Linked DNA regions of Homo sapiens: region 1 is linked to region 2. The links come from fine-mapping of genetic effects on gene expression. A gene starts in region 2. The other region holds a variant in brackets. All regions are shown on one strand. Distances are between the middles of the regions. Region 1 overlaps PTER (phosphotriesterase related). Region 2 holds the start of PTER (phosphotriesterase related).

Region 1 (5,377 bases), 43 kb after region 2:
TTCGATAGATAGATAGATAGATAGATAGATAGATAGATAGATAGATGGATGTCTGTCTGTCTGCACATGCATGTAAAATACACATTTTATTTTATTTTTTTTTTAGAGATGGGGTTTCACCATGTTGGCCAGGCTAGTATTGAACTCCTGACCTCAAATGATTCACCCACCTCGGCCTTCCAAAGTGCTGGGACTACAGGCGTGAGCTACTGTGCCCAGCCTAAAATATACATTTAAAAATCCATTGTGCAAGTATAGCTTTCATTGTTTGTTAGTGATCTATAGGTGGTCAGTAATATCCATTTCAAGCTAAAGGAATCACTGATGCATGGATGCCATCTGGAAGTTATCTGGTCAACCCCTTCATTTCACAGATGGGAAAAACAGGTGTGGAGTGGTTAACCAAGTTGCCCAAACCCACACAGCTATTTAGTGAAGAGCCATGGATTCTTACCTCTGAACCCATCATTTTACCAACTAGACCACACCACCTCAAGAATAGCCTTCCAGATGAAACTATGAGAGGAATATAGATATTTTACATGTTTAAAACATTTGTCTGTAGTTTGCCAGGACTTAAAAGTAATACAAATTTTAAGTGCTTTACTGATCAAATACAGCTAAAGACCAGTTGTGCAGCTGGCTCAAAGTATCACTGTTTCTGGGAGGCAACCTATGACTAGGGTTTCATGGGACAGAAAATCCCCTGTAGAAAAAGCAGAGGACAGACTTCAACGTGGAGAGTTCTTCATGAAGAAAAGCAGGTGATAACCATTGTATTCAAATAACTTGGTGTATGTTTCACTCTCAGGAATATATGTTGCTAGTAAAATCAAGAATTTTACATCAAACATTCTCAAGGCATTGAGTGTGGAACCTTCTGAGAATGAAAAGGGCAGAGATGAGATCTCGTTTTTCAAATTAAGTAAAATTTAAAGGTCAGTTATTCCGACAGTGTCTTGACAATAATATTGCACTTGTCCCAACTCTAGGATGTTACTATAGTGAGTAATGTTGCACTTCGATCTGGGTTGAAATACTGTTTTCTTCCTCCCTCTCCCTTTTCCTCCCTCGTTTCCGTTTTTTTTTTTTTTGGAGTTGGAGTGTTGCTCTTGTTGCCCAGGCTGGAGTGCAATGGCACGATTTTGGCTCACTGCAACCTCCGCCTCCCGGGTTCAAGCGATTATCCTGCCTCAGGCTTCTGAGTAGCTGGTATTACAGGTGCCTGCCACCACAGCTGACTAATTTTTGTATTTTTAGTGGAGACGGGGTTTTACTATGTTGGCCAGGCTAGTCTCGAACACCTGACCTCAGGTGATTTGCCTGCCTCAGCCTCCCAAAGTGCTGGGATTACAGGCTTGAGCCACCGTGCCCAGCCCCATTTAAAAAAAAAAAAAATGTTTTCAGTTGGCCACTAAACAGAGAAATTTGGGAAGCCACTGGTACCAGTTACAAGTTTGTAGACCACAGTCTACACAAAGGCCATCTGCTCAACCCTGGTGACTTGAGGTTGACTGGCCCAAGTTAAACTGAAGAGTTAATGAAGCCACAAGCCGATTTTTTTTATTCAAGGAGTCTGATGTGTTTTCTGGGTTTTCAAATGGCTTCAATGGATTTACTTACCAGTTTAAGATGAACACCTCACATCAAGGAATGCAGGATGGCAAAAGCCTGAGCTGACCCAGAGGAGGAGACCTTTCCCAGGCTGACCTGTCTGCAAAGGCCTTTTCCCAGCACTGTCACTTCCTGGGTTCGTCACTGCCATAGTCCTCGTAATTGTTTAGAATTTGCACATTTCCTCAGGTTTTCTTCTTACATTCTTAGTCAATTTGAAAAAAAAAAAGGAAAGCTTGGGAATGAAACCCAACATTTTCCTCCAACGACAAGCTGCTCATTTGTGTCTCTGAGCAGTTTTGCTTTATTTATGTCACAGTTTAAAGAACTTGCTGGGTCCCATTATTGCTCTGTATCCTTAAGTGGTGGGATTTCTTTCTTTTCATTCAGGCATGGTTACTGATTCTTTTGACAGTGTTTAATATTAAAAGTTATAAATGCACATGCAGTAGGGCCATTACACCATAAATAGCTGAGAGAGTAGAAGCATGATGACTGTGTCCAAGGAGGGACTCCTGGTGTCACCGTTGGTCAGTGTCCAGGCCCAGGCTGCTTCAAAGAAGATATATTGCAGGTCTGAACCTGTATGCACAATGGAAGTATTCAAACAAGCTTTAAAAAAAAAAAGGATGCATTTAAAAAATATTTTTGTGACAAATCAAATGTCAGTGTTAAGTGCAGTGTTTCTAGAGTGCAGCCGCGCTCTGTGATGTAACACTTCAAAAAATAGAAGTGCTGATCTATTTGGGCCAGACAGCACTTTTTTCTTAGAAGTCCATTTATTTGGAGGATACTTTTATAGTACCAGCAAGTCCAGTTAGAAAGTTCCATCTGCTCTGCCTCTTACTGCTTCTGGTTTCTTGCCATCTACACTGGTGTCATCTCAGACAAGACACTACCTGATTTTTTCTGGATAATAGCGACATCCTATGGGGCTCCCTGCAGGTACAACGGGCCCCCTCCCTTCATCCATTCGTACACGGCTGCCAGGCTCTTCACTTCATATTGTCTGCAAAAAACCCTGAGATGC[C/G]TTCCCGTTTTTTTGTCAGTTAGGGTTTCTTCAGAGCCACCAAACTATTAGGTTGGTGCAAAAATAATTCTGGTTTTTACCATCACTTCATTTTACTCATAGTATTAGGTTGGTGCAAATGTAATCACGGTCATGGCAAAGACCGTGATTACATTTGCACCAACCTAATACTATGAGTAGAATGAAACAAGGGATGTATGATAAGAATTAGACCTTTCATGGTTGGGGGAGGAGTTGGGAAAGTCAACTGAAAACTGATCCACCAAAACTCAGTTTTGTAATTTGACTATAGCATTTTTTTTTTTTTTGAGATAGAGTCTCGCTCTGTTGTCCAGGCTAGAGTGCAGTGGCGCAATCTTGACTCACTGCACCCTCCACCTCCCAGGTTCAAGCAATTCTCCTGCCTCAGCCTCCCGAGTAGCCTCCCGAGTGATGACAGACATGTGCCACCAGGCCCAGCTAATTTTTGTATTTTTTATAGAGACAGGGTTTCATCATGCTGGCCAGGCTGGTCTCGAACTCCTGGCCTTAAGTGATCTGCCTGCCTCAACCTCCCAAAGTGTTGGGATTACAGGTGTGAGCCACTGTGCCTGACCTAATTTGACCATTGCATTTAAAATTGTTAGACGAGTACCTTCAACCAGGTCAAGGGCTGGGTATAACAGAGTCCGGGGTGGGAGAAGAGCCTATGTTTATGAAATAAGGACAGTGTATTTCAGTTAAGAGAAGCTCTCCTCATTCACAGGTAAAATAGAGTCCTGGAAAGTCCTACCCTCTGCAATTCAAAATGCCACTGAAAAATATATTCAATCTACATAGACGGAATCATCTTAAGTATAATGGCCAGGGTGAAATAGCTGTGAGGAACTCTCAGTGAAACTAAACTAAAATTGCCCCCAAACTACCGTCCTGCACACCAAATCTTCAACAATTAGGTGAATTGTCTAAGTATTTTGTAGAAGTTGATTTATGCATATGGTTTTAGAATACACATATTTTAAACATGCGTATTTTAAATAAGACAAATCCTATTTATCGTTTCTGGCTTTCAGCTGTGCTGGAGGACTGTCCTCTGATTCTCTTCTCTTATCCCTTTTATTTTTTGTCTTTAAACCCTCTGTGCTTTTTCAGTTCTAGATGCATCAGAATTAGAAATGTTGTTCCCCTTGGCTAGGCTGTAATAGTAATTGCAGTCTATCCTCAGTCCTCAGATTGTTCAAATTTCACATTTGAAGTGCAACAGAACTTTTGACCCATGTGTTTGTAGCTCTGGCTACCCACTTTCTCACTAGCTTCTGTGCCGGTGTATGTGAGTGATGCTTAAGCCTCTCAGGCATACTCTGGAAAATGCCAGAAGCCTGCTTTGTTTGTTGGTAACCAGTCCTGTTTGCACCATTGGGTATAGCTGCTCTCATCGTTCCTTACCTTCTTCCTTGTTCTGTGAACTCTCTTCTCTATGGGGGAAGGCCATGAATAACCTCTTGCCTGTATGTTGAGAAGAGAGCAACCTCCAAGCTGAATGCAGAGGGAAAAGGGCTCCCTCCCTGCACAGGAAGCGTGTATTCTAGATACACACTCCACCCCACTCAAAGACATTCCAGCTTAGAGCAATGTTGGCTACAGTTTGTTCTTTAATCGTTTCTTATCCTTTGAGTGGAGGTTACATTGTGTGTGATCATAGGAAGTGCCAGCCAGTTCTGCCTGAGAGCATTAGAGGAATCTCCCAGAAGGGATGACATTTCTTAAGTGATTTTTTTTTCAGAAAGACTCACAGCTTGTGAGCTTGAAACGTACCAACATTGCTCTTTCAAATATGCATCAATTGAATATGCAGTTTGGTACTTTTCTAGCAAAAGTGGTAGCATTTTATCAATTTAGCTCAGTTTCTGCCCCTCTGTGACTCTCTGGAACACGTCTGTAAGATGGTCAGCCAGAAGGAAAGAAACGGCAAATTAACCCATATGGAAGCTTGCATCTATTATTAATGGTACTGTGATTTCATCAACGGAAGGCATGAACTACACACTCCTTGCTCTCAGTAGCAAGGAATAAGACACTGAACAGTAAATTCCTATCCATCATCATTGGAAAATATTGCCCTGTATAGTGCCTGGCAGCTGTGTGGTGATTCTCTGAAGAGACACTGCCTGCTTTTCTCTTAGCCACCATTTGAATTGCCTAGCTGATAGAAGTTTGGCTTCCAGAAAGGCACTATCAAACAAAATCAATGGCCATGTTAGCCACAAGTCCTAAGTTCTGTCCAAAAGTCTAAATCCATCATTTATGCCTTATAAGCCAATATATCGCAAACACCTGAGTTCCAGATAATTGCAGTGGCTTGCTATAAATTGGCCTACAATTCTGTCACCCTCTGACCTCTGATGTTGTTTTCACCTTGTCTTACGTGTGTACTATACCCTTCACAAATTTTCCCCTTTGTTCCCCCAAATCATCTCCCCTCTCATCAGCCACTTTCTCTGAAAAGAAATAATCTAGGATATACGTGAATAGTTCCTAGAATTCGCAAAACAAAGCTACTATTTGTTGAATATGGTCTGCGTGCCAAATGCATCTACAGGTATTTTTACCTGTGGTATCTAATTTATTTTTACGACAGTCTATGAAATGTGCTTCGTTATTTTAATTTACAGATGACAAAAATGGAAGTCAAAGAAGGCTTTCAAGGGATATGGGGGAAATGATGACTTCAGAACACTATTTGAAGGAACAGTT
Region 2 (5,377 bases):
ATCTCCACCTCCCAGGTTCAAGCAATTCTCATGCCTCAGCCTCCTGAGTGGCTGGGACTACGGGCATGCACCACCACACCCGGCTAATTTTTGTATTTTTAGTAGAGATGGGGTTTTACCATGTTGGCCAGGCTGGTCTCCAATTCCTGGCCTCAAGTGATCTGCCCACCTTGGCCTCCCAAAGTGGTGGGACTACAGGCGTGAGCCACTGCGCCTGGCCTGAAGTCATTTTTTAACAAGGACCTCATGTATCATTTAACATCTAGCAGCATAGACTACTAAAATACGTAACATTATAAATAATGGACTTTCGAGCCTCTCCTTACCACCCACTGTCGGGTACACATTTATATGGCTCCATGCTTGTAGCACACACAAAGTGGGAGCCAGCACTGAAATCACTCCAGAAGCCTCCCTGGATCCATCTCCTCATTACAGAATCTCAGTGTGAGCCCGTCATTGCTACTAATATCCAACTGTCCCAGCACTCATGCCTCTGCAGTTCTTAACCCCTACAGTTATTCTTGTCTTTCCTACTCTTGGGCCCTATTTTTATCCCTTTTCTGTTTCTAGGATTTACCCAGCCACCCTCCTTAAGAACCAATTTTTTCCTCAGTATCTTCTCCCTGACTGTCCCTTACCAACCAACCCCTTTTCTAAATGACTTCTTGTACTTTTACCCTTAAAAAACAAAAAACAGAGAACGAGACCTGTATATCCTTTTCTCCTCCTTTTTTTCTGATTTAAATGAATTAATTTATTTCTATTAATCTCCTATCAAAGCACCCCATTCTCTCCTGGTGCGGTGGCTCACGCCTGTAATCCCAGCACTTTGGGAGGTCAAGGCAGGTGGATCAGTTGAGGTCAGGAGTTCGAGACCAACCTGGCCAGCATGGCAAAACCTCATGTCTACTAAAATTACACAAAATTAGCTGAGCATGGTGGGGCGTGCCTGTAATCCCAGCTACTCAGGAGGCTGAGGCAGGAGAATCCCTTGAAACCAGGAGGTGGAGGCTGCAGTGAGGTGAGATTGCACCACTGCACTCCAGCCTGGGCAACAGAGCAAGACTCTGTCTCAAAAACAAACAAACAAACAAACCAAAAAAATTCCCCATTCTTTACTAAGAAGGCAAGTGTAGTGACTGATATCAACTAATCTGGGTCCCTAGTCCTATCCTTGAACAAGGTGCTTGCCTAAGTTTGTTTTCTTGTCTGTAATTGGAGGGAAATAGCTCCTGCCACATGCAGGTTGCTCAAAATCTTAAACAAAATAACATACACCCATTACAAAACCTGGTAGAGTTGGCCCCGATAAACATCATCTATTAATATTATTATTAAAACTCTACTTTCCTTTGAAATGACATCTGTAGCTTCTGCCCATCTGCATACCTATTCTCTTTTTTCTCAGAATTCAGGATAAAATTAATTGACTAGGCCTTGTGCTGTGGCTTATGCATGTAGTCCTAACACTTTGGGAGGCTGAGGTGGGAGGATCCTTTGAGCTTAGGAGTTTGAGACCAGGCTGGGCATCATAGCGAGACCTCCATCTCTACAAAAATTACAAATATTAGCTGAGTGTGGTGGTGCACACCTGTAGTCCCAGCTGCTCAGGAGGCTGAGGCAGGAGGATCCCTTGAGCCCAGGAGTTCAAGGCTGCAGTGAGCTATGACTGCACCACTGAAATCCATCCTGGGCAACAGAGCCATTTCAAAATAATAATAATAATAATTGATGACAGTGTAATATGGTTGGGGTTCAGAAAATGATACCCCAAAATGAAGGCCTTAGAAGCAGCTCTCTCTAACCTCATGTCCTCCTGCCTCTGGCCCCTCATTCTAGAAACTGGAATCCCTCTTCCCCAAGGTGATTCACAGAAGCCAGAACCCCTCATCCCCAAAGCCAAGCATAAAACCTAAAAGTTTGACTCTGCGTGTCCCCTGCCTTTCTGTGTCAAAACTGGCGGTAAAGAAATTCTCTGCCCTGCTTTGTTTGACTGTAGGTCATAAGACCCCCATTCCAGAAAGGATCCTGCTCTATACCCAGAAGGAAGGAACACTGCACAGAAAAGCCAAAAAGAATCTAAACAGACAGGGCTTGCTCACTTAGTCTATTGGCATTAGCTCAGACCCTTTTTATGCCATCGTAGTATCTCTTAGGTTGGTGCAGAAGTAATTGCGGTTTTTGCCATTAAAAACCGCAATTACTTTTGCACCAGCTGAATACATGGCGGTCCATACTTTATTGAACCTAAGCGAAAAAATGGACCGTTTCCCCTGCATCTTTGGGTTTTCATTCTGAAGGCTCCCGGATCACATAAAGTTACGATCTAGTATATTTGTATGCCTTTTCTACTGTGAAACTGTCTTTTGTCAGTTGATTTTCAGCAAACTTTCAGAGGACGAAGGAGAGGTTTGCCCTTGGCCCCCTACAATACCTAAAGGTATGACTCTTTACTGTGGCAGCTGCTCCAAGCATCATGTTTTGCCAACAGACTCACACATACTAAGTTTATTTCAGTCACAGCAAGTACCAGGGCCAGTTCAAGTGCTCTAGCACGGCACTCTAATTCTAAAGAGAAGGAAACGCGGCACCGGGGCAGGAAACAGTGACAAGTGGGAACACAAAAACCAAAGTTCTCCGTATGCAGCATGAGGATCCAGAACCCACTGTGACATCAAATTGCCAGAGCACCACCTCCGATTTATTCTTGGGGAAAACCAAAAGAGCTACGGAATGCTCCCTTGTTCCAGACTGTTCTATGGAGAACTGGGATCTGGGGAAAATGCAACAGTTTCTTTCCGTTTGGGGATCTAGCCCCGAATTTTTTTCATTCAGCCAAACTACCGACAGTCAGACAGCGCCTGCAGGAGGGTGTGGCCAGGCAAAAACGCGGGGAACGGCCCCGGACCAGGGTGGGGCGTGGCAAGGGTTTGAAGGGCGTGTCCTACGAAGAGGTAGGGCTTGGCAAGGACCCACGGGGCGTGTCCTAGGACTCGGTGAGGGCGTGACCTCGGGCCAGGGGCGGGGAGAGAACCAGAGGGCGAAGTGGGAGGGCACAGGGGAGACTAAAAAGGCCAGGGAAGTTGGCCTGCCGGAAGTTCCCAGGGAGAAGGCAGCGCGTTGTACCCGAGGTAAGGCTTCTTGGAGTCAGAGCAGGAGCCGGAACTGTGGGCCCAGTAGGAAGAGTGGGGCCCGACGGCGGAGGCCGCGCGGCCAGGGTTCGCTGCAGAGCTCCACGCGAGGGTCCTGCCGGAAGGAAGGATTTTCTAGCCGCTGCGCTTGGGCCCTGCCGCCTCTCCTTAAGTGCTTGAGGGACGTTGCAAAGAGCGCCAGTCCCGTGTGGCGCCAGCTCCCTGTGGCTCGACAGCAATGCCCGGGGGCGTCATCGGGTAGCTGTGCTAAGCCTCCTTTAATAAGCTTTTTTTTTTTTTTTTTTTTAGATTCAGGGTCTGGCTCTGCTTCCCAGGCTAGAGTGCATTTGGCGCGATCACAGCTCACTGCAGCCTCGACCTCCTGAGCTCAAGCGAACTTCCTGCCTCAGCCTCCTGAGCTTCCTGAGTAGCTGCGACTACAGGCACGTGCCACCATGTCCGGTTATTTTTGTATTTTTTGTAGAGAGTGTCTCGCCATGTTGCCCAGGCTGGTTTCGAACTCCTGGGCTCAATCAGTCTGCTGCCTCGGCCTCCCAAAGTGCTGGCATTACAGGTCTATATTTTTTGACAGTTTATAAAAGCCAATTACCAGCGGTCATATGTCTGAGTCCTGTGCACTCTTGCTTAATCCACTCTGCAGCCCTGTGAAGGATTCTAGTGATAACGACAAAGCTAAGGTACAGAAAAATTAGGCCACACTGCTGGAAAGTTTAGAGATGGAAACAAAGTTTAGAGGTGGAGTCTTTCTGACTCCACAGCCAGTGTGCTGTTACTCTCTTAGACTACCTCATTCTTTGTACATCCCAAGTCAACAGGAACTAAAGGTATACCCTTACATAGGCAGTAAGAGGGGTTGCTGATTTAAAGAACTTTGGACCCAGAAAGAGTAGAGCCCTATTCTAGTTCTGGTTCCAGCTCAGTGACTTTCTACAAGTTGGTTTTCTTTTGCTTTTTTTAAAGACAGAGTCTCGCCCTTGCCCAGGCTGGAGTGCAGTGGTGCGATCTCGGCTCACTGCAACCTCCGCCTCCCGGGATCAAGCGATTCTCTTGCCTCAGCCTTCTGAGTGGCTGGGACTACAGGCGCGCTCCACCACACACAGCTAATTTTTGTATTTTTAGTAGAGACGGGGTTTCACCATACTGGCCAGGCTGATCTCGAACTCCTGACCTTGTGATTCACCCACCTCGGCCTCCTAAAGTGCTGGGATTACAGGCGTAAGCCACCGCGCCCGGCCTCTTGCTTTTTAAGACTAGGTCTCATTATTTCACCAAAGCTGGAGTGCAGTGGTGCTATCACAGCTCACTGCAACCTTCACTTCCCCCGTTCAAGTGATCCTCCCAGCTCAGTCTCCCACAGGTGCACACCACCACGCCCGGCTAGTTTTTATTTTCTGTTTTTTGTTTTTTTTTTTGTATTTTTGGTAGAGACGGGGTTTTGCCATTTTGTCCAGGTTGGTGTCAAACTCCTGGGCTCAAATGATCTGGCTGCCTCGGCCTCCCAAAGTGCTAGGATTACAGGCGTGAGCCACTGCGCCTGGCCTGCCTGTTTTCTAGACACATTAAGGTGAGTGGTCTCAGGCCAGGCGCGGTGGCTCACACCTGTAATCCCGGCACTTTGGGAGGCTGAGGCAGGTGGATCACTTGAGGCCAGGAGTTCGAGACCAGCCTGGCCAACATGTGAAACCTCTTTTCTTCAAAAAATTAGCTGGGCATGGTGGTGGGCATGCCTGTAATCCCAGCTACTGGAGAGGCTGAGGCACGAGAATTGCTTGAACCTGGGAGGCAGAGGCGGCTGTGAGCTGAGATCACACCACTGCACTCCAGCCTGGGTGTCAGAGCAAGACTCTGTCTCAAAAAAAAAAAAAAAAAAGGTAAGTGGTCTCTAGGTCGCTAGTGGATGTAATAATCTATGGATTTATGAGGATAAGATCCTGATTTTACCATTTAATGATATTTTGGGCCAGTTTTTTTCCTTTTTAATTGGGCAGCCCTCAAACCAGAATAGATTGAGAGGGTCTTCCAGTTTTGGGTCATATTTGCTGCTGAAATTACAAGGTAGTCAGGAAGGGTCTGTTTATTCAATCAAAGATCAATAAATGTGTATTTTGGAGGTCAGTAGCGGAGTATCCAGCCAGAAGGTGGCTAGTGAGACAGGAGGAAAATCAGGACAGTGGCTTTTCTGGAGGGACTTAGGGAAAGATCAGTTTCACTGGGCAAATTTC

What was found. PIP is the estimated chance that this variant, and not a neighbour inherited with it, causes the effect. A credible set is the group of variants that fine-mapping cannot tell apart.
Region 1: its variant is the best candidate, but not a certain one, in a credible set for the expression of PTER in testis (GTEx, PIP 0.84).

Annotation. Positions count from the first base shown.
Region 1 is chr10:16,477,256-16,482,632 of GRCh38, forward strand. All of the region lies in intron 1 of PTER (phosphotriesterase related), which reads left to right. Among named protein-coding and RNA genes, the nearest start is that of C1QL3, 42 kb to the right of the region's middle. The variant C/G (reference allele first, on the strand shown) is at 2,645.
Region 2 is chr10:16,433,914-16,439,290 of GRCh38, forward strand. It overlaps PTER (phosphotriesterase related), which reads left to right and starts at 3,097. Exons shown (of 5, transcript NM_001261836.2): 1 at 3,097-3,134. RefSeq lists a silencer at 2,972-3,021 and enhancers at 3,442-3,621, 3,642-3,691.